Homo sapiens: one gene and its partners. The protein of the gene in region 1 purifies or fractionates together with the protein of each later gene. This does not show direct contact. Each region holds a gene or a part of one and is shown in the gene's direction. Other genes may lie near its edges.

Region 1 (3,500 bases):
TGTTTGGCTCCAGTTGGCTTGTAGGTTCTACTCTCTAAACTGGTGATCTTGTGCCCATGCACCCAAAAGAGAAGTTTAAAGGGCAGGATACTGGGCTGTATACAAGTTGAATTTATTGAACAACAACAACAACAGAAACCATGATAATTTCAGATCTATTCAAAACTATAAAAACCATTGTTTGCCAGATGGTAAAAGACAAAATTATCAGGGGAAAATGTAATTTCCAGCTCTTAAAATAGCTTTATAAACAATGGAGAACAAAGTAAACGAAAACCATTTAAAAAGACAAAATCTGCTATGCTATTCTTCAGAGTGTTCTTTGGGTACAATATGAATGCTTTGGGAATTCAGAATAGTAAGTTTCTTTCATGGGGAACAACACAAATTAATTGAAGTTTATAAGGTATACCACTACCAGTAGCAGTTGTTGTTCTGGATTGCATTTTTAGTGGAGTTGAAAAAAGGTAAAAACCAAGATAACAGGTTAATCAAACTTTACTTTTAGAATGTGCAGTTGATGAGGAGGATGATGATGATGATATGATAAGCTAATGAGAAAATATTGAAATTGCCAATTTCAGCTTTGCAGTTTAAAAGTTACTGTTGTACATTTAGGAGTTCTCATTGGAACTAGCATCCATGTTCAGACAAGATGAGTTAATTTCAAAAGTCAGGATGATTAAGCCAATGTCTTTTCTTCTAAGACCAAATAGGTAAATAAAATGAAAAGGACTGGCACTAAATTTTGATAAGAGAAGATAATATGGTCTGCTAGCTACAATGAAACCACCTATTCAACAGGAATGGTGGCTGGTGCCATGTTTTATGTTTCGTAGAGTAGACTTCTTTCTGAGAGAAAGATTGAAGGACTATAGTGCACGTTTTCTGTAGAAGTTTTAGTTGAATACAGACTATGGTGCAATGTGTTGTGTTAGATTAAAATCCCATAAAAACTGGTTTGGGAGGGATAGAAAACCGTGGGGAAGACATGCTTATAGCCCAAACATTTAAAGTTTTGGTTTAAAATTAATACTGCAGTAAAGAGTAGCCATTAGACAAGCACATATTTTGGGTGTAGGGTAGGGAGGAGATAGTTCAATGTGAAGCACATCACTCAAATGGGTAAAATGGAAAGTATTTAGTATATTGGGATGAAAACCTTTCTCATAAGCCTGTGGTGAGTCAGCTGCCTTAATTAACCCTCACATGAGACCTGTCTCCCTTTGTCCACAGCTGTGTGTAACAGCATCTCAAACCCTGTCACCAAGGAGATGCTGTTTGAGTTCATCGACAGATGTACTGCAGCTTCTCAAGGACAGAAGCGAAAACATCATCTGGACCCTGACACGGAGCTCATGCCACCACCACCTCCCAAAAGACCACGCCCTTTAACCTAAGACCTGCCTGTGACTTGAGGGTTAAGAAGAAAGAGGAATGAGGAAAAAACGCTGTTGCCCATTTTTGTAGCCAGAGAAATTGAAAAACGACTGTGGCTTGATGTTGATACACATTTGAATTTTTTTTAAAAAAAGAAAGTTATCGTAGCCAGCCTGTAAATACTTGATGCATTCGTTTCCTCAGTGCTGCAATACATCGTGGACTTAAACATCTTATTTATCTGATAAACTCAGCCTTACCTTGTGGAATCTGAAGATTGAAATATCCAAAGGTTTAAACAAGATGGAAATCAATGAAAAAGAGGCCTTGTTTATATATGGGTAGCTTCACATTTAATTTATAAAGTTAACAATCTGGAAACTGTGAGCCCATAAAACAGTATTTTTTAGAAGTTGTGTTACAACTGTAGCAAATTTTCCTTTTAAAAAATCCAGGCAATGGCATTAAACATTCTTGCTATCATTTACCATGGATTTCCTACATTTCTGAGATCCCTGTATTCAAAAACAAATGACAGGGTTGTTAAGTTGTACTATATTAAACAACTTGGTCTGGTTTATATCATTTTAACAAGTTTTTTGGAAATGTAAAAGAAAAAAGTAAAGCTCCATTTTTGTGAATTGCATTGTTTCTAAAGGAAGTATTTTGAGTATTTTCATCTGTTTGTATTGTTTCGACTATGATATCAGATATCCAGTGTGTCCATTCTGGCAGTGGTTTTGAGTTACTTCATGGAACTTGGACATACACCACCAGGTCCTTTATGTGTTGTTCTCCTGGGAGACTTCTTTTTTTAAATGCCAGGGCTACTTCTGCTTTACCTCAGTGGTATCAGCACATTGTAAATTACGTTAAAACACACAACTCACTGTGATCTATGGGAGTGATATCAAATACAAACGATGTTGTGTTCCTTCTCTCGAACAAAACAGCAAAGGGAATGCCAGCTAACTTCTTTGATTAGAAGGTAATGTCATGGAATAGAATGCTGTCACCAGAAAATGCTCTCCCACTGCTAGATAAATGCAGAGGCAAAGTGTAGACATCTGTAGGAACTAAATATCAAGGAAATCAAGACATTTATTTTCAAAGCGAGAATTCTATCTACATTCTATTCTGCGGATGTTATTTCTGTTATACATCTGAATTTTAAAATGTTTACTGATAGATAATGGATTTAAAGGGCGGCTAATTGATTGTCTGCCATTGTTGATAAACTGTTCTAATTGGTTTGTGAAAGAACTCTGAGAATTAGCTAAATGGAGGCTAGTGTATTTATTTTTAGAGGTACATGTTTTAAGTAAATGTATTTAAAACAAATTTTCATGGTCTGAATTGTATATGTAAATGCATATCTGTGTAAGTATATGCAAGTGTATATTCTTCTACTGATTCAGTCAGACACGAAATCCAACTGAATTACCCGGTAGACTGAATATCTGACGGGATTTCTATATGGACATAGCACAGATGAACCAAAAATGTATTTATATTCACCTGAGTTTTAATGTTTTTAAACAAAGTTTTCTCCTGCAGTGCTTTTCTATATGAAATAGTTGAGTCAAGCTTGGGCTTTTTTCTTCGTTGTTCCCAAGTCATGTAATGTATAGTGAATTTATCCAAAACGCCATTGTAACGTTTTTTACTAGAGTGTTTTTGCACATTTGGGCGCTAAAGGGATTAAAACAACTGATGCCACAATGACTATTGAAGGAGGGAAAATTCTCAAGGTTCCATAGTATCTTTTACAAAATGGATTAAAAAAAAAATGCCTATGCAACTTCAAATAGTCTGATGCCTGCTTCCCCAGGACGAGTGACTCTTCCACGGTGTGCTGCTTTCCCTCCGAGCCTGTGGAAAGGCAGAGCCCTTTTGCAGATACGAAAGCAAGCTTTTGCCAATGATCTTTAATGGAGTTAAAATGTTTATGGTAATTGTAACCTTTCAAATGAGTTACGTGAAAAGAGCATCTCACTTTTAATACACCCAGATATTTTCTTCAAGTCTTTGTGCATTTTAGCAGGACTTAATTTTCTTAATTTATTCTTTCCTTTCAATTATAGTGACATAGAGTAGTTGGCCTTATAAGTAGATCCCAT
Region 2 (3,500 bases), on another chromosome or scaffold:
CAAAATCTGGCAGAGACAGAACAAAAAAGGAAAATTTCAGGCCAATATCCCTGATGAACGTCGATGCAAAAATCCTCAATAAAATACAGCAAACTGAATCCAGCAGCATATCAAAAAGCTTATCCACCATGATCAAGTCAGCTTCATCGCTGGAATGCAAGGCTGATTCAACATATGCAAATCAATAAACATAATCCATTACATAAACAGAATCAATGACAAAAACCACATGACTATCTCAATAAAGGCAGAAAAGGCCTTTGATAAAATTCAACACCGCTTCATGCTAAAAACTCTCAATAAACTAGGTATTGATGGGATGTATCTCAAAATAATAAGAGCTATTTACGACAAACCAACAGCCAATATCATACTGAATGGACAAAAGCTGGAAGCATTGTCTTTGAAAACCGGCACAAGACAAGGATGCCCTCTCTCACTACTCCTATTCAACATAGTATTGGAAGTTCTGGCCAGGGCAACAAGGCAAGTGAAAGAAATAAAGGGGATTCAAATAGCAAGAGAGGAAGTCAAATTGTCTCTGTTTGCAGACGACATGATTGTATATTTAGAAAACCCCATCGTCTCAACCCAAAATCTCCTTAAGCTGATAAGCAACTTCAGCAAAGTCTCAAGATACAAAATCAATGTGCAAAAGTCACAAACATTCCTATACATCAATAATAGACAAACAGAGGGCCAAATCTTGAGTGAACTCACATTCACAATTGCTACAAAGAGAATAAAATACCTAGGAATATAACTTATAAGGGATGTGAAGGACTTCTTCAAGGAGAGCTACAAACCACTGTTCAAGGAAATAAGAGAGGACACAAACAAATGGAAAAACATTCCATTGTTATGGATAGGAAGAATCGATATCTTGAAAATGGCCATACAGCTGAAAATAATTTATAGATTCAGTGCTAACCCCATCAAGCTACCATTGACTTTCTTCACAGAATTAGAAAAAATACTTTAAATTACATATGGAACCAAAAAAAGAGCCCATATATCCAAGACAATCCTAAGCCAAAAGAACAAAGCTGGAGGCATCATGCTACCTGACTTCAAACTATACTACAAGGCTTCAGTAACAAAAACAGCATGGTACCGGTACCAAAACAGAGAGATAGACCAATGGAACAGAACAGAGGCCTCAGAAATAATGCCACACATTTACAACTATTGGATCTTTGACAAACCTTACAAAAACAAGCAATGGGGAAAAGATTCCCTGTTTAATAAATAATGCTGGGAAAACTGGCTAGCCATATGCTGAAAACTGAAACTGGACCCCTTCCTTACACTTTATACAAAAATTAACTCAAGATGGATTAAAGACTTAAAGGTAAGACCTAAAACCATAAAAACTCTAGAAGAAAACCTAGGCAATACCATTCAGGACATAGGCATGGGGAAGACTTCATGACTAAAACACCAAAAGCAATAGCAACAAAAGCAAAAATTGACAAATGGGATCTAATTAAACTAAAGAGCTTCTGCACAGCAAAAGAAACTATTATCAGAGTGAACAGGCACCCTACAGAATGGGAGAAAATGTTTGCAATCTATCCATCTGACAAAGGGCTAATACCCAGAATCTACAAAGAATTTAAACAAATTTACAAGAATCAAACAAACAACCCCATCAAAAAGTGGCCAAAGGGTATGAACAGACATTTCTCAAAATAAGACATTAATGCAGCCAACAAACATGAAAAAATGCTCATCATCACTGGTCATTAGAGAAATGCAAATCAAAACCACAATGAGATACCATCTCACGTGAGTTAGAATGGCGATCATCAAAAAGTCAGGAAAAAACAGATGCTGGAGTGGATGTGGAGAAATAGGAACGCTTTTAGATTATTGGTGGGAGTGTAAATTAGTTCAACCAGTGTGGCGCTTCCTCAAGGATCTAGAACTAGAAATACCATTTGACTCAGCAATCCCATTACTGGGTATATACCCAAAGATTATAAATCATTCTACTATAAATACACATGCACACATATGTTTATTGCAGCACTATTCACAATAGCAAAGACTTGGAACCAACCCAAATTGCCCATCAATGATAGACTAGATAATGTGGGACATACGCACCATGGAATACTATGCAGCCATTAAAAAGGATGAGTTCATGTCCTTTGCAGGGACATGGATGAAGCTGGAAACCATCATTCGCAGCAAACTGACACAGAAACAGAAAACCACACACCTCATGTTCTCACTCATAAGTGGGAGTTGAACAGTGAGAACACATGGGAACATCACACACTGGGGCCTGTCAGGGGGTGGGGGGCTAGGGGAGGGATAGCATTAGGAGAAATACCTAATGTAGATAGATGACAGGTTGATGGGTGCAGGAAACCACCATGGCACGTGTATACCTATGTAACAAACCTGCACGTTCTGCACATGTATCCCAGAACTTAAAGTATAATAAAAAAAGAAAACTCTAGAAAAGAAGGAAAACTTATTGTATTTACCATATTTTTGCTTACAATGCTATATCTTCCTTCTTAATATTCCAAATTCTTTCTTTTATGATTTTCTTCTCTTTAGACAACTTCTTTTAGCTATTCTTTAAGGGTAGGTCTGCTAGTAACAAATTATTTTCATTTTCCCTCATCTGAAAATGTGAATTTCCCTCCATTCCTAAAGGATAATTTCACTGCATATAGAATTTACAGTTGACAATTATTTTCTTTTAGTACTTAAAAAATAGTATCCTAGTTCCTTCTGGGCTTCATGATTTGTAATGAGAAATCTGTTGTCATTTGAATTGTTATTCCCAATAATTAATGTTTTTCTTGCTGCTTTGAAAATTTTTAGTTTGTCTTTAGTTTTAAGAAGTTTGACTCTGATTTGTCTGGTAATGGATTTCTTTGGGTTTATATTGTTTGGGATATGCTCAGCTTCTTGAATATGTATGTTACCAGGTTTTACTAATTTGGGAAACTTCTCAGCCATAATTTTTTTGAATATTTTTTCAGCTCCATCCTCTTTCTCCTTTCCTTCCAGGACTCTGAACATGAAAGCTAGATATGTGGTGTACACCCACAAACCCTTAAGCTCTGTTTAATTTTTTCTAATCTATTTGTTTCTGATATTCAGATTATATACTTTATTTTATTCTATCTTTAAGTTCATTAATTCTTTCCTCTGTTCTCTCCATTCTGCTTTTTAGCCCACTCCTTGAGAGCTTTGTTGTTTTGGTTTGGTTTTTGTTTCTTTGTCTTGTTACTGTCCTTTTCAGTTCTAAAATTTCCATTTAGGTATTCTTTATGTCTTCTATTTATTTGCTGAGACTTTCTATTTTGTCATTGAGACAATGTGTTTTTACAGTCTCCTTGCAACTTCTTGTTGAAGTATTTATGATGGTTGTTTTATACACTTTATCAGATAATTCTAACATTTCTATTATCTTGATGTTGTCATCAATTAAGTGTTTTTTCTTATTGGTTGAGATTTTTGTTGTTCTTGGAATTATG
Region 3 (3,500 bases), on another chromosome or scaffold:
GCTGACCACCAGCCTCGGGTCCCTCAGACAGCGGGAAGCGGAAGAAGGGCTTGGAGATGGACCCCATCGACTGCACACCACCCGAGTACATCCTGCCAGGGAGCCGGGAGCGGCCACTGTGTCCCCTGCAGCCCCAAAACCGTGACTGGAAGGTAGGATCCTGGGGGAGGGAGGAAGAGGGTCCCTGGCGGGGTGGAGGCCCCACACCAGAGGCCTGGCCCCTCAGACTCGGCCGCTCCCGAAGCCCTTGCAGTGCCTGAAAGTACTCACCATGAGCGGATGGAACCCGCCCCCGGGGAACCGGAAGATGCACGGGGACCTCATGTACCTGTTTGTGATCACAGCCGAGGACCGGCAAGTCAGCATCACCGCGTCCACACGGGGCTTTTACCTGAATCAGTGAGTCCCTGCCAGCCCACCACACCCCCCTGCCGTGCCAGCCGTCCTGGGTCTGGGCAGACACCTGGGCCCCCGCTCAGTGCCCGCCCTCTCCCTGCAGGTCCACAGCTTATCACTTCAACCCCAAGCCCGCCAGCCCCCGCTTCCTAAGCCATTCCCTAGTGGAGCTGCTCAACCAGATCAGCCCGACCTTCAAGAAGAACTTCGCTGTGCTGCAGAAGAAAAGGTAGTGCCTTTGTCCCCTCCCGCCTTGTCTCATGGCACACGGGGGCATGGGGTGAGCCGGCCCACCTGCACTCCAGTGCTTCTGTCTGAAGAAACCGCCCTGGGCCCCCAGTGTTGGAGTCCCCGCTCTAGGGAGCTGTCGGCCAGTGCCGAGACAGCAGCCGCAGGAGAGGCGCCCGTGCACTTCCATCTGGCTCCAGGGCAGTGTCTCAGGGTGGGAGATGCCGGAGCAGGCGGGGGCCTCAGAAAAGGGGCCCGTGGAAGGGCTCTGAGCTTGGTGGGCTGCCCCATCTCCCCCTCCCCTGCCTGCCACAGGGTCCAGCGCCACCCGTTCGAGAGGATCGCCACCCCATTCCAGGTGTACAGCTGGACAGCCCCCCAGGCGGAGCATGCCATGGATTGCGTGCGTGCAGAGGACGCCTACACCTCGAGGCTGGGCTATGAGGAGCACATTCCTGGACAGGTGCCTGCAACCTGGCCCTGCCCTCGCTGGGCACCCCTGCCCTCCTGGGTGCTGGGCTGGTTCCGTGCACTTCCCTGGAGGCCCCATGCTTGACTTCATTTGGGAGTCTGGGGCTCTTCTCAGGAAGGTAGAAGGAGCGACTTCCGGGAGCAGGTCACAGGGCACAGGCTGAGCTCGTTTTTCCCTCCCTGATCTCTCTGCAGACCCGAGACTGGAATGAGGAGCTGCAGACGACGAGGGAGCTGCCTCGCAAGAACCTGCCTGAGCGGCTGCTCCGAGAAAGGGCCATATTCAAGGTGCCTGCAGCCTCTGCTGACCGGCAGTCTGAGGCCCGCTGTCCACCTGCTGACGGGTTTTCTCATGGAGAGGAGGAAAGCAAGGGAGGCAGGGGCAGCCCTAACCCTGTCAGGTTCCCCGAAGGCCAGTCAGCGTCTCCCGCAGGGTCTGCTAGCCTTCCGCCTCCCAGCAGACCATCCCAGTACCTTTCTCTGGCCTCTCTGAGGCTTTGAGTCCCTGGAAGGAGCGGGCCCTACTTCCCATAGGGACTGAGTGTCCAGGGCCGTGCAGCTTCCCGCCCTCTGTGACTGCTGCGGGGCTTTTGCCTGGGCGAGCACTGGCCGGCCATGGCCCTTCTAGGGCGGGTGCTCATTTGCATAACACTTTTAGTTTGCTGGGGTTTAAAAGTTATTAGTGCTGGGTTACTAAGAGAAATGAGGAAAAGCAGTTGCTTAAGAAAAAAAAAATCTCAGGCCGGCTTCAGTAGCTCATGCCTGTAATCCCAGCACTTTGGGAGGCCGAGGCGGGCGGATCACAAGGTCAGGAGTTCAAGACCAGCCTGGCCAATATGGGGAAACCCCATCTCCACTAAAAATACAAAAATTAGCTGGGTGTGGTGGCGCATGCCTGTAGTCCCAGCTACTCGGGAGTCTGAGACAGGAGAATTGCTTGAACCCAATAGGCGGAGGTTGCAGTGAGCCGAAATTGCATCACTGCACTCCAGCCTGGGCGACAGAACAAGACTACGTCTCAAAAAAAAAAAAAAGAAATCTCAGCCAGGCACAGTGGCTCACGCCTGTAATCCTAGCACTTTGGGAGGCTGAGACAGGCAGATCACTTGAGCCCAGGAGTTGGAAACCAGCCTACGAAACATGGTGAAACCTCGTCTCTGCAAAAAATACAAAAGATTAGCCAGGCATGGTGGCATGTGCCTGTAGTCCCAGCTACTCGGGAGGCTGGAGTGGGAGGATGGCCTGAGCCAGGGGAAGTCGAGGCTTCAGTGAGCTCGGATCTCGTGCCGCTGCATTCCAGCCTTGGCAACAGCGTGATACCCTGTCTGAAAACAACCAACCTCCCATAGTTATACTGCCTAGAGATGATAATTGTAGAAACAAAAACTCATTTCTCGGGTACCGACTTCACCAGAGATGGTGCCAAGTGCGTTATAGAGACTATTTCCTATAATATATTGGACAACTTGTAAAGGTCAATACCTTTATCTGTTCAAGTTCACCTGGCACATAACTGGTGGATCCCAAACCTGCGCACGCTTGTTAATCACTAAGCCCTGCTGTCTCCCTCAGCACAAGTGTATTCTCAAAACATGGGGGTTTTGGTTTGTTTGCGCTTTTTTAGAAATGGAGTCTCACTCTGTCCCCCAGGCTGGAGTGCAGTGGTGTGATTTCGGCTCACTGTAACCTCCACCTCCCGGGTTCAAGCAATTCTCCTGCCTCAGCCTGTCGGGTGGCTGGGACTACAGGCGCGCGCCACCTCGCCTGGCTGATTTTTTTTGTATTTTTATTAGAGATGGGGTTTCACCATATTGGTCAGGCTGGTCTCGAACTCGTGACCTCAAGTGGTCTGACCGCCTCGGCCCCTCAAAGTGCTGGGATTACAGGTGTGAGCCACCGCGCCCGGCCAAAACATGGTTTTCTTGCCCTTTTCTACATATGAGGAAACTGAGGCTCCGGGTCCTTGGGTTTCCAAGGCAGGCCCGGTTGCCTCCGCGGTCTAGGTGCGTGCGCTTGGCCAGGTGGATGCAGGCTCTTGTGGGCGCGGCCTCTAACCCTGCCCTCCTCGACCCCCGCCAGGTGCACAGCGACTTCACCGCGGCAGCCACCAGGGGCGCCATGGCCGTCATTGACGGCAACGTGATGGCCATCAACCCCAGCGAGGAGACCAAGATGCAGATGTTCATCTGGAACAACATCTTCTTCAGCCTGGGCTTCGACGTCCGAGACCACTACAAGGACTTCGGGGGGGACGTGGCGGCCTACGTGGCGCCCACCAACGACCTGAATGGCGTCCGCACGTACAACGCGGTGGACGTGGAGGGGCTGTACACGCTGGGCACGGTGGTGGTGGATTACCGCGGCTACCGGGTCACGGCCCAGTCCATCATCCCCGGCATCCTGGA
Region 4 (3,500 bases), on another chromosome or scaffold:
AAGTGATTCTTGTGCCTCAGCCTCCTGAGTAGCTGGGGTTACTGGCACGTGCCACCATTGCCTGGCTAATTTTTGTGTTTTTAGTAGAGACGGGGTTTCGCTGTGTTGAACAGGCTGTTCTCGAACTCCTGGCCTCAAGTGATCCTCCCCCTGCCTTTGCCTCCAAAGGTGCTGGGATTACGGGCATAGTCACTGCCCCGGCTGACTTTCCCTTTTAACTGTCAATCTTAGTTTTACAGTAGGTATATATCTCATGCCTACAACCAGTCCTTATGTCATTGTCATTGTATTCTCTCTGTCTCTCGTCAGTTTGGTTGTCTGAATGAAGCTTATTCTTTAATAGATTATTGAAAAGCGGCTAATTGAAACAATATTTCTGGAGTTTTTTTTTGTTTTGTTTTTTTTTGAGACAGAGTCTTGCTCTGTTGCCCAGGCTGGAGTGCAGTGGTGCGATCTTGACTCACTACAACCTCCACCTCCTGGGTTCAAGCGATTTTTCTGCCACAGCCTCCTGAGTATCTGGGATTACAGGTGCATGCCACCACGCCCGGCTACTTTTTTGTATTTTCAGTTGAGACGGGGTTTCTCTGTGATGGCTGGGCTGGTCTCGAACTCCTGACCTCAGGTGATCTGCCTGTCTTGGCCTCCCAAAGTGCTGGGATTACAGGCGTGAGCCACTGTGCCTGGCCTAACTTTTGTATTTTTAGTAGAGATGGGGTTTCATCGTGTTGGCCAGGTTGGTCTCAATTTCCTGACTTCAAGTGATCTGCCTGTCTCGGCCTCCCAAAGTGTTGGGATTACAGGCATGAGCCACTGCGCCTGGCCTGGAGTTCTTATGTGTATGTCTTGTATGTTGTCTGTGCCTTTTATTCTTTTTTTTTTTTTGCCCCCCTTTTTATTTCCCCTTTTTGTTGAGCATGGGGTCTCGCTATATTGCCCAGGCAGGTCTCAAACTCCTGGGCTCAGGCTATCCTCCCGCCTGTGCCTCCCTAAGAGCTGGAATTATAGGCATGAGCCACCGTGCCTGGCATGTGCCCTTTAATCTTGAAGGTCACTTTGGCTGGAAGTAAAATCTTTGGTTCACATTTTCTATCCTTGAGTGTCTTAAGTTTGTTAATTCTATTGTTTCCCCCCAGTAAAACTGTTAAAATCTATTTATTTTTGAGACAGAGTCTTGCTCTTTTGCCCCGGTTGGAGTGCAGTGATGCAATCTTGGTTCACTGTAAACTCTGTCTTCCCACCTCATCCTTCCCGGTAGCTGGGACTACAGGTATATGCCACCACACCTGGCTAATTTTTGTGTTTTCTGTAGAGATGGGGTTTCACCATGTTTTTAGGCTGGTCTCCTGAGCTTGAACTCCCGAGCTTAAGTGATCTGCCCACTTTGTTGGCCTCTTAAAGTGCAGGGATTACAGAGGTGTCACCATGCCTGGCCAGCTGTTAACATCTGATGATAATTTTTTTTACCTTATAAACTGCCCAATCTTTTTGCCTACCTTCCTAAAAGATTTTTTTCTTTAAAATACAGTGTGGGGTGTGTGTGTGTGTGTGTGTGTGTGTTTGTTTGTTTGTTTGTGTGTGTGTGTTTTGAGTCGGAGTCATGTGTGTGTGTTTGTGTGTTTTGAGTCGGAGTCGTGTGTGTGTGTGTGTGTGTGTGTGTGTGTGTGTGTGTGTGTGTGTTTTGAGTCGGAGTCTTGCTCTGTTGCCCAAGCTGGAGTGCAGTGGCGCCATCTCCGCTAACCGCAATCTCCGCCTCCCAGTAGCTGGCATTACAGGTGCCCACCACTATGCCTGGCTAATTTTTGTATGTTTAGTAGAGACGGGGTTTCACCATATTGGCCAGGCTGGTCTCAAACTCTTGACCTCGTGATCTCCCCGCCTTCGCCTCCCAAAGTGTCAGGATTACAGGTGTGAGCCACTGCGCCCGGCCAAAATACAGTGGTTTTTATAGACTAGATCTTTAAAAGCATTTTGAAAATCAATGTTGGATATTTTGGAGTCATTGTACTCAGGTATATGGTGTGGTCTTTTTTTTTTTTTTTATCCACTTATCTACACACTGGTGGTGTAGTCTTTCAATATGAATTTTTAAATTTTTAAAAAATATTAAATATTTCAAGAAAGTGAATTGTTGTCTTTGGTTTTTTTGTTGGGGAGGGGAGGGAGACTATATTGCTGCATCTTTGCATATCTTCAGTACTTATCATTTTGTCTTGAATTCTTCTTTTGAGTCCTTTTTTAAAAAGCAGTGTTACGGGCCGGGTGCGGTGGCTCACGCCTGTAATCCCAGCAGTTTGGGAGGCTGAGGCCGGCGGATCACCTGAGGTCGGGAGTTCAAGACCAGCCTGACCAACATGGAGAAACCCCATCTCTACTAAAAATACAAAATTTGCTGGGTGCGGTGCATGCTTGTAATCCCAGCTACTCGGGAGAATCACCTGATCCCGGGAGGCAGAGGTTACAGTGAGCCGAGCTCACGTCGTTGCACTCCAGTCTGGGCAACAAGAGTGAAACTCTGTCTGCAAAAAAAAAAAAATCAGTGTTATTGAGGTATAATTGACATACAATACACTGTATTTATTCGAAATGTACAGGTTGCTAAGTTTTCATATCTACACTCAGGAAACCATCACAACAATCAAGATTGTGAACATGTTCATTCATTACTCCCAGAAGTTTGCTCATGCCCCATTGTAATCTTCCCTCCCTGTGTGTGCTGCCTTCCCTCCAAGCAACTTTTTGTCAATGTAGATTAGTTTGTGAGTTCTAGAATTTTATGTAAATGGAACCATACAGTATGTATTCTTTGGCTTCTTCTATTCAACATAGTTTGTATTTCTTTTTATTTCTGAGTAGATGCATCGTATGAATATGCCACAATTTTTTTTTTTTTTTTTTTTTTTTTTTGAGATGGAGTGTCGCCCTGTTGCCCAGGCTGGAATACAGTGGTATGATCTCGGCTCACTGCAACCTCTGCCTCCAGGTTCAAGCTATTCTTCCGTCTCAGCCTCCCTGGTAGCTGGGGCCACAGGCGCGCGCCACCATGCCTGGCTAGTTTTTGTATTTTTAGTAGAGACGGGGTTTTACCACATGGGCCAGGCTGACTCCTGACCTCGTAATCCACCTGCCTCGGCCTCCCAAAGTGCTGGGATTACAGGCGTGAGCCACCACACTTGGCCCAGAGTAGCTTTTCTAACTACATGGAGCACTCTCGTTGGTTTTGTGAAGTGTTTTAAGAACACGGCAGTTTGCATTCTGAAATTCCAGGCTGTGTTCTCCACTTCTGCTTTTTTTTGAACCTTGTCTTCATTTCTCTTGACTCTTTCTCCTCATTGTGGGGCTTACCTCTAGATTGGAGCACTGTTGGGTCACTTTCAAGAGCTCAAGTGAGCAAGACCTGCTTCGTCTTTTCGAACTCAGAGCAGTCTATTCACTCATTGCTAGAGTTGGCAAAATCCATCTCAGTTTCAGCTGCTGTTCTCAAATTGGTCTGCAGTGAT
Region 5 (3,500 bases), on another chromosome or scaffold:
ATGGTGGGGGCAGGTGGGGGCAGGGAGCAGGTGGTCCCTAAGCGGGAAGGGGCGGGGATCTGACAGAGCTTCACCCCTTCCTGACTGCCCTCCTCCCTTCAGGGTGTATGGAGGATCTGATGAGCTCTCAGACGACATCACCCAGCAGCAGCTGCTCCCAGGAGTCAAGTAAGGGGGTTGGGATGGTGGGGGCCGTGCTGGGGTGCGAATCTTGTATGGGGTGATGGTGCCTAGACAGGTGGCTCCCTGAAATAAGTCAGGGCAGAGTCACACAGGCAGTGTGGTGGATGGCAGGGGTAGGGAGGGCAAGGTGGCACTTTCTCTTTCCTCTTGCTCCTGGGTAGAAGCGTGGGGAAGTCAGTGAGTGTGAGGGAACCTGGATGTGAAACCAGAGGAAGGGGGTGGCCCTGGGGGTTCGTCTGTTTGTTACTGAAGATCCAGCTTCACTGAAGGCCTTCCTTTTCCTCTGCTGCTTAGGGATCCCAATCTGTGGACTGTCAAATGTAAGGTATGTGCTCTGATCTCGGGGCTTGGAGGAGGTGGGAGAATGAGGGAGGCTGCTTTGTGGGGGAGAAGTGTCTGTCTGTCCCGGGTCTCCGTGGCCTGCCAGTCACTTGGTCCTTCTGTCTCCATCCCTCACTCCACGTTACTGACTGGCTATCTCCCACCTCCATCTTCCTGGCTGTCCATCCTTCTTTCTCTCTCCTCTCTTGGTCCTACTTTATTTTTCTTGCTGCTGTCTCCTTCCCCCTTTCCTGTGTCCTTTCCTCCATCCTGTCATCTCTCTCAAATCTGCCTCTCATCTTCCAGATTGGGGAGGAACGGGCCACGGCCATTTCCTTGATGCGCAAGTTCATTGCCTACCAGTTCACAGACACGGTAAGTCGGGTAGACAGGCGGCTTGGTGGGGAGACATGGCAACACCCAGAGGGAAGAACATTGTCAACTTCAGGGGTACCAGGTGCCTCTGTTGTGAGCAGAGCTGCCTGCTGAGTGAGCTGCTTGAGCTGGAATAAGACCACTGCCTAGATGGAAGGGCTCTTCTCGGCCTAGATGGATATGTTGTCTTTGTTCTCTGCATTTATGGCAGGGTCTTCCCACCCTTGTAGCCCTTTGGAAGTCAGCCAGCTAGCTTCCTGCACCTTTTCTTCATGAGAGTGGGTTTGCCTGTTCACCAGCCCTGTTGGGCTGGGGTCACCCACTTCACCACATGCCAGGCAGCAAATGCTGCATCCAAGGCCCAGGTCTTTCTTTAGACTGACAGAGTTTGAGTCCTGCCCTTGCCACTTCTTAGCTGTGTGACTCTGATGCACCTACTTCCCCTCTCTGGGCCCCTTGGTTGCCTCTCAGCATCATTAGGATTAAGTGGCTTTTGGCTGGGTGCAGTGGCATTCACCTGTAATACCAGCACTCTGGAAGGCTGAGGCAGGCAGATCACTTGAGGTCAGGAGTTTGAGACCAGCCTGGCCAACGTGGTGAAACCCCGTCTCTACTAAAAATACAAAACTCAGCTGGGCGTGGTGGTGCACACCTGTAGTCCCAGCTACTTGGGAAGCTGAGGCAGAATCACTTGAACCCAGGAGGCAGAAGTTGCGGTGAGCCGAGATCGCATCACTGCACTCCAGTGTGACAAAAAAAAGGATTAGGTGGCTTTATGTCCAGCTCTCAGCTAGGACTTGTTCTGCAGCTTGCATTTACTTAGCAGAGCTGTTGTCAAAGGCTTCATTGGCAGTTTGGGAACCAGGGCAAACGCTATGAAGGGTGCTGGCTGGTAACTTTCTCAGTTAACATGATCCCTGCTAGGGATCATGCTTTCACCTGTCCAGCCACTGGGTGTGACCCAGTGGGACCAAGTAGACAGTTGTAGGGTTTGCAAACTATGCTTTTAAATGTGCTCAAATGTCCTCCTCAAAGGCCGGCCATGGTGGCTCATGCCTGAATCTCCAGCACTTAGGGAGGCTGAGGTGGGTGGATCACGAGGTTAGGAGTTCGAAACCAGCCAGTTTGAGACCAGCCTGGCCAACATGGTGAAACCTTGTCCCTACCAAAAATACAAAAATCAGCTGGGCATGGTGGTGCTTGACTGTAATCCCAGCTACTTGGGAGGCTGAGGCAGGAGAATCACTTGAATCTAGGAGGCAGAGGTTACAGTGAGCCAAGACTGCGCTATTGCACTCCAGCCTGGGCGACAGAGTGAGACTCCGTCTCGGGGTGGGTAGGGGGTGGAATGTCTTCCTCATTATTATAGTAATAAGTGTCCCTGCCTGTCATGGGTGAGATTGGGATTTGTGGGGTATGATTCCCCAACAGGGAGGTTGAAAAGGTACCTTTTGGCTAGGTGTGGTGGCTAATGTCTGTAATACCAGTATTTTGGGAGGCTGAGGCAAAAGGAGTTCGAGGCCAGCCTGGACATCATAGTGACATAGTGACAACTGATTTCTACAAAGAAAATAATAATAGGCCGGGCGCGGTGGCTCACGCCTGTAATCCCAGCACTTTGGGAGACTGAGGCGTGTGGATCACCTGAGGTTAAGAGTTCGAGACCAGCTTCACCAGCATGGTGAAACTCCGTCTCTACCAAAAATACAAAAGATTAGCCAGGGGTGGTGGTGCATGTCTATAATCCCAGCTACTTGGGAGGCTGAGACAGGAGAATTGCTTGAACCCAGGAGTTGGAGGTTGTAGTGAGCCAAGCTCGTGCCACTGCACTCCAGCCTGGGCAACAGAGCGAGACTGTCTCAAAAAAAAAAAAAAAAAAATAATAATAATAATAATTAAAAGAAGTGTGCTCAAATCCTCCTACATGGTACCCTGGGGTAAAATTCTAGTTACTTCATTTGAGTTATGTCTCTGATTATTATTTTTTTTTGAGACGGAGTTTCACTCTTGTTGCCCAGGCTGGAGTGCAATGGTGTGGTCTCGGCTCACTGCAACCTCTGCCTCAGCCTCCCGAGTAGCTGGGATTATAGGCATCCGCCACCATGCCCGGCTGATTTTTTTGTATTTTTAATAGAGACGGGGTTTCACCATGTTGGCCAGCCTGGTCTTGAACTCCTGGCTCAAGTGATCCACCCGCCTTGGCCTCCCAAAGTGCTGGGATGGCAGTTCTGAGCCACTGTGCCCAGCCTAAAATTTAATTTTTTTAAAGTGTAAACTGTGGTGGATTTTATATATTGTAGTGTATTCATAACCATCATCACCATCTAATTCCAGGACATTTTCATTATCCCAAAAATAAACCGATACCCATTAGTCATCACTCCCCATTCCTCCCTCCTCACAGCTCCTGGTAACTATGAATCTACCTTCTTTCTCTGTGGATTTGACTATTGGAACTCTGAATGGTTCATACAAAGGGAATCATACAATATGTCGCCTTTCGTGACTGACTTGCTTCACTTAATGTTTTCAAGACTCATCCATATTGTAGCATATATCAAGACTTCATTTTTTTGTTTGTTTTTTTGAGATGGAGTTTTACTCTTCTTGCCCAGGCTAGA
Region 6 (3,500 bases), on another chromosome or scaffold:
ATTCTGAAGTTGATGTGTATTCTTTGTGTACATGCTTTTATACCTTTTCTGCATATGTATGTATCCATAAATAATATGTAGTCTGTTGTGTGTTTTTAAACTTTACACAGTGGATGTCATACTCTTACATGTATTCTGCAGCTTGCATTTTTCACACATTCATTTTGAATATTCGTTCATGTTAACAATGTAGATCTAGTTTTCTTTTTAAACTCTGTATAGTATTCTTATGTATGACATACACTTGTTGTTATACATTTGAATTATTTCCAGGTATTCTTTTTTGTGTGTGGTATGTAAAGTCACGATGGCAGAGATTTTTGAAGGAAGATAAATTATTTTAGGATTACATTTACAGCGTCAGTGCCCACTTCAAGGTTTATGAAAATTTGGATGCCCAGAAACAAGTACTTCGTAGTTGGAGGAATAAAATTCTGTCTGTTGTGCAGCTTATTATTACAAAGTCTTACTGTTAGAACAATTATGTATATAACACATTCTTAATCAGTTATTTGAAATACTTTAAAATTTTCAATATTCAATTCATAGCTTTTTTCTCTGTTTAGAAAATATTGTGTGTCTTTTTTGATGGAGAAGCAAATTAAACATTTGTCCTGAATTGAAAACCTGAAGATGTTTCCTATACCTTAGACATTGTAAGGTAGACATTTAAGTAAATTTAATTTCTCAGTCAGCCAGGCAGCTCTTAATCTCTGTCTTTATACCGAGTTTTTACCAGATGATCACTTTTAGTTTGTTTTTGTTTGCTTGCTTCTTTGTGGGGAAAGAAATACTAATTTTTTTTTTTTTTTTACCATATTTCCCTTATCTGCATGAATATAATTATCAGGAACTTTGTTCTTAAATGTAACTAAGTCATAAACAGTTCCCTACAAATTTAGGTTTAATAATGGATTCTTCTCAGATTGTATATAAGATCTTTTAGCTGTTGTTACTTTGGAAACATCACATTATGGAGTAGGTTTGTATTTAAAATAGTCACCCAACATAAGTTAAAAATACATAGTGATTCTGTGAATACTTTAGAATCATTAGGATATGTAGGTAATTTCATGTATAATGTTGCTCTACTAGAAAATTAGTTCTAGATAATTAGCATTTTTGTATACACTTAGTATAAAGTATTGGAAAAAATGCATTATTTAAAAAAATTACACCATTTGGAAATGTTTTCTGTAATCACATTTAAATAATATACTATTTGGGGTTTTGTAATAGTTTATTTTTTCGTTGGGCTTTTTTTTTTTGGCAACATAACATTCAGGTGTATAAGAGAACTCTGGTAATGAGAAGAATATGGAAACACTGAAGAAGAGTGAAAAACTTGTGTGAATGATGTTACCTGTTTATTTTTGTTTAAATTGAGTACACTTTTCTAATTGAAATCATAGGGCCATTTAGGGGTTATGTTAAACTTAGTTTCTTTGTAATAGACATGGTTTTTCATATTTTCACCCAAATCTTCAATTTGCACTTTTGAAAATAATTTTTTTGAGAGGGTCTTCTTCTGTCCCTTAGGCTGGAGTACAGTGGTTTGATCACAGCTCACTGCAGCCTCAACCTCCTGGGCTCAAGCGATCCTCCAATTTCAGCCTTCTGAGTAGATGGGATTATGGATGTGAGCCACCATGCTTGACTAATTTTTTTTTTTTTTTTGAGATGGAGTCTCGCTCTGTCGTCCATGCTGCAGTGTGGTGGTGCGATTTCTGCTCACTGCAAGCTTCGCCTCCCGGGTTCACACCATTCTCCTGCCTCAGCCTCCCAAGTAGTTGGGACTACAGGCGCCCGCCACCACGCCCAGTTAATTTTTTTGTATTTTTTAGTAGAGATGGGGTTTCACCGTGTTAGCCAGAATGGTCTCGATCTCCTGACCTCGTGATCCGCCCGCCTCGGCCCCCCAAAGTGCTGGGATTACAGGTGTGAGCCACCAAGCCCGGCCAACCTTACTAATTTTTTAAAAAATTTGTAAAGATGGGGTCTCGTTATGTTGTCCAGGCTAAATTTGCACCTTTAAAAAATTTATTACAAAACTTTGTTGTTGTTGTGTTTGTAGAGACGGTCTCACTGTGTGGCCCAGGCTGATTTGAATTCCTGGCCTCAAGTGATCCTTTTGCTTCAGCACCTCCATGGTGCTGGGATTACAGGTGTGAGCAGTGGCTGTATTCAGCTTAATTTGTAGTTATTTGAAGTTACACAAATTGAGATTTCCAAATACAGTAACATTTTTCTATGTTTGTTAGAATTATCCTTTGTAAAAGGCATCATTTAGGTTATTCAATAAATTAGTCTAGAAAGTTATTAATTTCCAAATATCACATGAAGTCTGTTGTTCAGTAGTGGAGTTAAAATTTAAAAAATTGTTTTCAGAGATGGGATCTTGCTATGATGCCCAGGCTGAGCTTGAACTCCTAGGCTCAAGTGATCCTCCCATCTCAGCTTCTCCAGTAGCTGGGACTGCAGTAATGGGTTAAATTTTTTGTTTCCATTAGCGGGTTTTTTATTAAAAACTTAATGAGTAAGTGAATGAGATGTTTATAGGCCATTTTGCTGTATTAAAATATGTTGACTATGGCAGGCATGGTGGCTCACACCTGCAATCTCAGCACTTTGGAAGGCCAAGGCAGGAGGATCCCTTGAGCTGAGGATTTCGGGAACAGCCTGCACAACATAGCAAGATCCCTGTCTCTACCAAAAAAAATTCAAAAATTATCCAGGTGTGGTGGTGCGCAGCTATAGTGCCAGCTACTTCTGGAGGTGAGACGGGAGGATCATTTGAGCTTCGGAGGTCGAGACTGTAGTAAGCCATGATTGTACCACTGCACTCCAGGTGGAGAGACAAAGCGATTTTTCTGTCTCAAAAAAAAAAATTGAGTAAATTCAGAGGGGAATGTTTAACATTCTTCTTTTAACATTATAGTTTTAAAATGAGCCAACTACTAAATTGTGTGCTCAAGATACATCTTTTCTTTCATAAATGAAGTACCAAATTGTGAGCCTAAAAGGAGTTAGAATGAGTCAAGCTGAATGTCATATGACTGGATATTGAAAAGTCATTATTGATTCACATCACTTTCTTCCTTACTGTGCATAGTACTGAAGTCGTTAATGGAAGAAGATGTACTTACCCAATAAACTTAAGCATTTAAACATGTTGGAAAGAGAAGAGAATCATTATATGATACAACATGAAATAACATACCTGATAGGTGTGACAGAAATTTTAAGTTACTTCAAATCAGTCCCACTGATACTGACTAAATCAAAAGCAGAGTCAAAGCCAGGTGTGGTGGCGTGTGCTTGTGGTCCCAGCTCCTTGGGAGGCTGAGGCTGGAGGATCACTTAAGGCCAGGAGTTTGAGGCTGTAGGGTGCTATGATTGTGCCTGTGCGTAGCCATTGCACCCCAGCCTGGGCAACATATCTTAATAAAAAACAAGAGTCATACTAGGCACAGTGGCTCACACTTGTAATCTCAACACTT
Region 7 (3,500 bases), on another chromosome or scaffold:
TCACTTGAGGTCAGGAGTTCGAGACCAGCCTGGCCAACATGGTGAAACCTCGTTTCTACTAAAAATACAAAATTAGCCAGGTGTGGCTCATGCCTGTAATCCCAGCTGCTCAGGAGGCTGAGGCATGAGAATCACTTGAACTCAGGAGGCAGACGTTGCAGTGAGCTGAGATCACACCACTGCACTCCAGTCTGGGCAACAAGAGTGAGACTCTGTCTCAAAATAAGTATATAAATAATAAATGGGAAAAAAGAAAAATGAGGATGGGGGAGAAAAAAAAAAAAAGAAAAAGCAAATATATTTTACCCTTAGTCATAGTTCTTTTAACCAGTCTGCTAATATCACTTGATTTTCTTCAATTTGTTCTAATGATTGCAATTCCAGTTTTCTATATTCTGTGTTGTGTTATTTTAAGTAACAGAAGAATATTATTTTTGTCAATGTAATTTCATCAATTTTCTTATTTCAAAAACCTGAAATACAGCTCATTTATGACTCAACATAAAACGGGAGAATTAAATTCCGCATTAAATTTTTTTTTTTTTTTTTTTTTTTTTTTTTGAGACGGAGCCTCACTCTGTCGCCCAGGCTGGAGTGCAGTGGCGGGATCTCTGCTCACTGCAAGCTCCGCCTCCCGTGTTCACGCCATTCTCCTGCCTCAGCCTCCCGAGTAGCTGGGACTGGGCGCCCACCATTACGCCCGGCTAATTTTTTTGTATTTTTAGTAGAGATGGGATTTCACTGTGTTAGCCAGGATGGTCTCGATTTCCTAACCTCGTGATCCGCCCGCGTCGGCCTCCCAAAGTGCTGGGATTACAGGCATGAGCCACTGCTCTCGGCCCGCATTAATTTTTTTTTGGCCAGGCACGATGGCTCATACCTGTAATCCCAGCACTTTGGGAAGCCAAGGCGGTAGGATCGCTTGAGCCCAGGAGTTTGAGACCAGTCTGGACAACACAGCGAGACCCTGTCTAAATAAAAATTTGAGAATAAAAAAATTTTGAAACAGCTTTACTACATTAAAATTTTGAATGGAAATTTCTCTTTATATTTTTGTAATCCTTAAGAGGGCAAATTAAAACTCAAAGCTTCTATTACAAAAACACTTCTTAGTGTAGTTGATAGATCTTTTTCTAAACAGGAATATGAACATGACAATTCATATTTTTATTGACACAGGTAACTGCATCAGAATCTGCATATTTGATGACACCAGAAAAGACAAAGGCAAATATGCTTCATTTGAAACATAAAACTTACATCACTCTCAATAAAAAGTATTTCTGTCTCTGTGAAAACAGAAAAACTTGTTAAAAGATCTCAAAGTTATGAACAAGAATCAAAATTATTTGATCATGAAGATGTCAAAGGAAAATATTTGATGTTAGCTTATAACCATCACCTCACCACTCTGTACAGATTTTTCAGAAGTAGGAAAATTTTGCACAAACTGTGTTCTGCAGTAACAATGACACTTTTGAAATACTTTGTTTTTAAAGATTATGCTTTAAAAAATAGGTAAAATTATATTTTATTATTTTGTGATTTAGTTAATTTTTTAAATAATACTTTTTCAAAAATAAAAGATACTGTTGTCATTTAGCTTGTGTATAGCTATAGCATCACTTCTTCCTCATGCCTCAGAATTATTTCATTTAACTATATAATCTACAAAGATGCAGAGACTACTGTGGCAGAAATTTTTTTAATAATAACTTTTTTTTTGAATGCTCACTATATGTTGAGCACTTCTCTAAGTGATTTTGCTTTATTTTCTCCTCTAATTCTAACCTCTAACTTATGAGGAAGGTACTATTGCTATCCCTGTGTTTTCAGATAAGATTGATGAGGCTTAGAGAGCTGATAAATGAACTTTTCTATTAAACTAGGAGGAAATAACCCTCTCATTTCATTTTAGGGGAGGTTCATTACACCTGCTCACTACAGTGATGTCGTGGATGAACGTTCTATTGTCAAACTCTGTGGTTATCCTTTATGTCAGAAGAAGCTGGGAATTGTAAGTAACTCATTTTTTTTAAAATATAGGCTTTTATTATTTTCATTTAGCAAAATACTTTGTTGTAAGAATAAGAAATAAAACCTAAGGTCATGAACTAAAGGCATGGATTGGCCAATGATATGATATGTAGATGACTTAATCTTGTAACATAACGTTCATGTTTATTATTTGGATTCTTTTGTAAGCTGTACTTTCTTTTCTTTAGGTACCAAAACAGAAATATAAAATTTCTACCAAAACCAATAAAGTCTATGATATTACTGAAAGAAAGGTGAGTTTAAAGGCTTTCATTGTGGCAATTAATTTTTTTTCTTTACTAACCACTATCCTAACAAGGCATGGCAATTAATTTTTAATGATATTAAATAGGATTCTAAAAGAAACTTTAAAATCTTACTGGTTAGAAAATAGTGATGTTAAAAGTTTGATTTTATTTGTAAATATTTCAATCAAGGTATTAAAAATTTTTTTGCTTAAGCTTCAATTAAGACTTGAACATTTAAAAGTGCATATTGGCACAAATCTGGGCAAATAAATCATGGAACAGAATAGAGAGTCAGCAGCAGACTAACCACATATGTAGACACTTGATATATGACAGCGGGAGTATTGTAGATCAGTAGAGAAAGGATGGATTTTTCAATAAATTATACTGGCACAATTAGTTATGCAAATGGAAAAAATTAAAATTGATGCCTATCTCAGTCTCTATACATAGATCAATTTTAGGTAGATTAAAGACATAAATGTAAAAGGTAGAAGACACTATGGGAGATGCTGGTCGTGGTGGCTCACACCTGTAATCCTAGCACTTTGGGAGGCCAAGGGGGGCGGATTACCTGAGCTCAAGGAGTTGGAGGCCAGCCTGGGCAACGGCAAAACCCTGTCTCTACAAAAAGTACAAAAATCAGCCAAAGGTGGTGGTACGCACCTGTAGTCCCAGCTACTCAGAAAGCTGAGGCACATGCATCGCATGAACCTGGGAGGCAGAGGTTACAGTGAGCCGAGATCATGCCACTGCACTCCAGCCTGGGCAACAGAGCAAGACACTGTCTTCAAAAAAAAGACAATAGACCGGGCGCCCTGGCTCAAGCCTGTAATCCCAGCACTTTGGGAGGCCGAGGCGGGCAGATCACGAGGTCAGGAAATCGAGACCATCCTGGCTAACACAGTGAAATCCCATCTCTACTAAAAATACAAAAAAATTAGCCAAACGTGATGGCGGGCGCCTGTAGTCCCAGCTACTCGGGAGGCTGAGGCAGGAGAATGGCGTGAACCCGGGAGGCGGAGCTTGCAGTGAGCCGAGATCGCACCACTGCATTCCAGCCGGGGCAACAGAGTGAGGCTCCGTCTCAAAAAAAAAAAAAAAAAAAGACAATATGGGAAGATATAAACTTGGGGTAGAGAGACTTCATAAAATAAGATGGAAAATTATAGGCCAAAGAGGAGAAACTGATAAACATTTCTATATTAAAATGTA

The links.
Region 2: the proteins of RNGTT (region 1) and POF1B purify together in Homo sapiens (affinity purification with mass spectrometry, with the first as the bait; one large-scale study listed by BioGRID). This does not show direct contact.
Region 3: the proteins of RNGTT (region 1) and CLUH purify together in Homo sapiens (affinity purification with mass spectrometry, with the first as the bait; one large-scale study listed by BioGRID). This does not show direct contact.
Region 4: the proteins of RNGTT (region 1) and PPP4R2 purify together in Homo sapiens (affinity purification with mass spectrometry; 2 studies listed by BioGRID and IntAct, with this or other methods). This does not show direct contact.
Region 5: the proteins of RNGTT (region 1) and SUPT5H purify together in Homo sapiens (affinity purification with mass spectrometry; 3 studies listed by BioGRID and IntAct, with this or other methods). This does not show direct contact.
Region 6: the proteins of RNGTT (region 1) and PPP4R3B purify together in Homo sapiens (affinity purification with mass spectrometry; one large-scale study listed by BioGRID and IntAct). This does not show direct contact.
Region 7: the proteins of RNGTT (region 1) and RPAP2 purify together in Homo sapiens (affinity purification with mass spectrometry, with the first as the bait; 2 studies listed by BioGRID). This does not show direct contact.

The regions. Positions count from the first base shown.
Region 1 is NC_000006.12:88,610,619-88,614,118, reverse strand, and holds part of RNGTT (mRNA-capping enzyme), read left to right. Parts: intron 1-1,236; coding exon 1,237-1,400; 3' UTR 1,401-3,500.
Region 2 is NC_000023.11:85,310,166-85,313,665, reverse strand, and holds part of POF1B (protein POF1B), read left to right. Parts: intron 1-3,500. UniProt on the Homo sapiens protein: Plays a key role in the organization of epithelial monolayers by regulating the actin cytoskeleton. May be involved in ovary development.
Region 3 is NC_000017.11:2,698,265-2,701,764, reverse strand, and holds part of CLUH (clustered mitochondria protein homolog), read left to right. Parts: intron 1-27; coding exon 28-152; intron 153-244; coding exon 245-399; intron 400-499; coding exon 500-625; intron 626-939; coding exon 940-1,087; intron 1,088-1,290; coding exon 1,291-1,383; intron 1,384-3,174; coding exon 3,175-3,500. UniProt on the Homo sapiens protein: mRNA-binding protein involved in proper cytoplasmic distribution of mitochondria.
Region 4 is NC_000003.12:73,003,311-73,006,810, forward strand, and holds part of PPP4R2 (serine/threonine-protein phosphatase 4 regulatory subunit 2), read left to right. Parts: intron 1-3,500. UniProt on the Homo sapiens protein: Regulatory subunit of serine/threonine-protein phosphatase 4 (PP4). May regulate the activity of PPP4C at centrosomal microtubule organizing centers.
Region 5 is NC_000019.10:39,459,082-39,462,581, forward strand, and holds part of SUPT5H (transcription elongation factor SPT5), read left to right. Parts: intron 1-102; coding exon 103-168; intron 169-477; coding exon 478-508; intron 509-810; coding exon 811-879; intron 880-3,500. UniProt on the Homo sapiens protein: Component of the DRB sensitivity-inducing factor complex (DSIF complex), which regulates mRNA processing and transcription elongation by RNA polymerase II.
Region 6 is NC_000002.12:55,611,123-55,614,622, reverse strand, and holds part of PPP4R3B (serine/threonine-protein phosphatase 4 regulatory subunit 3B), read left to right. Parts: intron 1-3,500. UniProt on the Homo sapiens protein: Regulatory subunit of serine/threonine-protein phosphatase 4 (PP4). May regulate the activity of PPP4C at centrosomal microtubule organizing centers.
Region 7 is NC_000001.11:92,302,059-92,305,558, forward strand, and holds part of RPAP2 (putative RNA polymerase II subunit B1 CTD phosphatase RPAP2), read left to right. Parts: intron 1-1,918; coding exon 1,919-2,017; intron 2,018-2,225; coding exon 2,226-2,291; intron 2,292-3,500.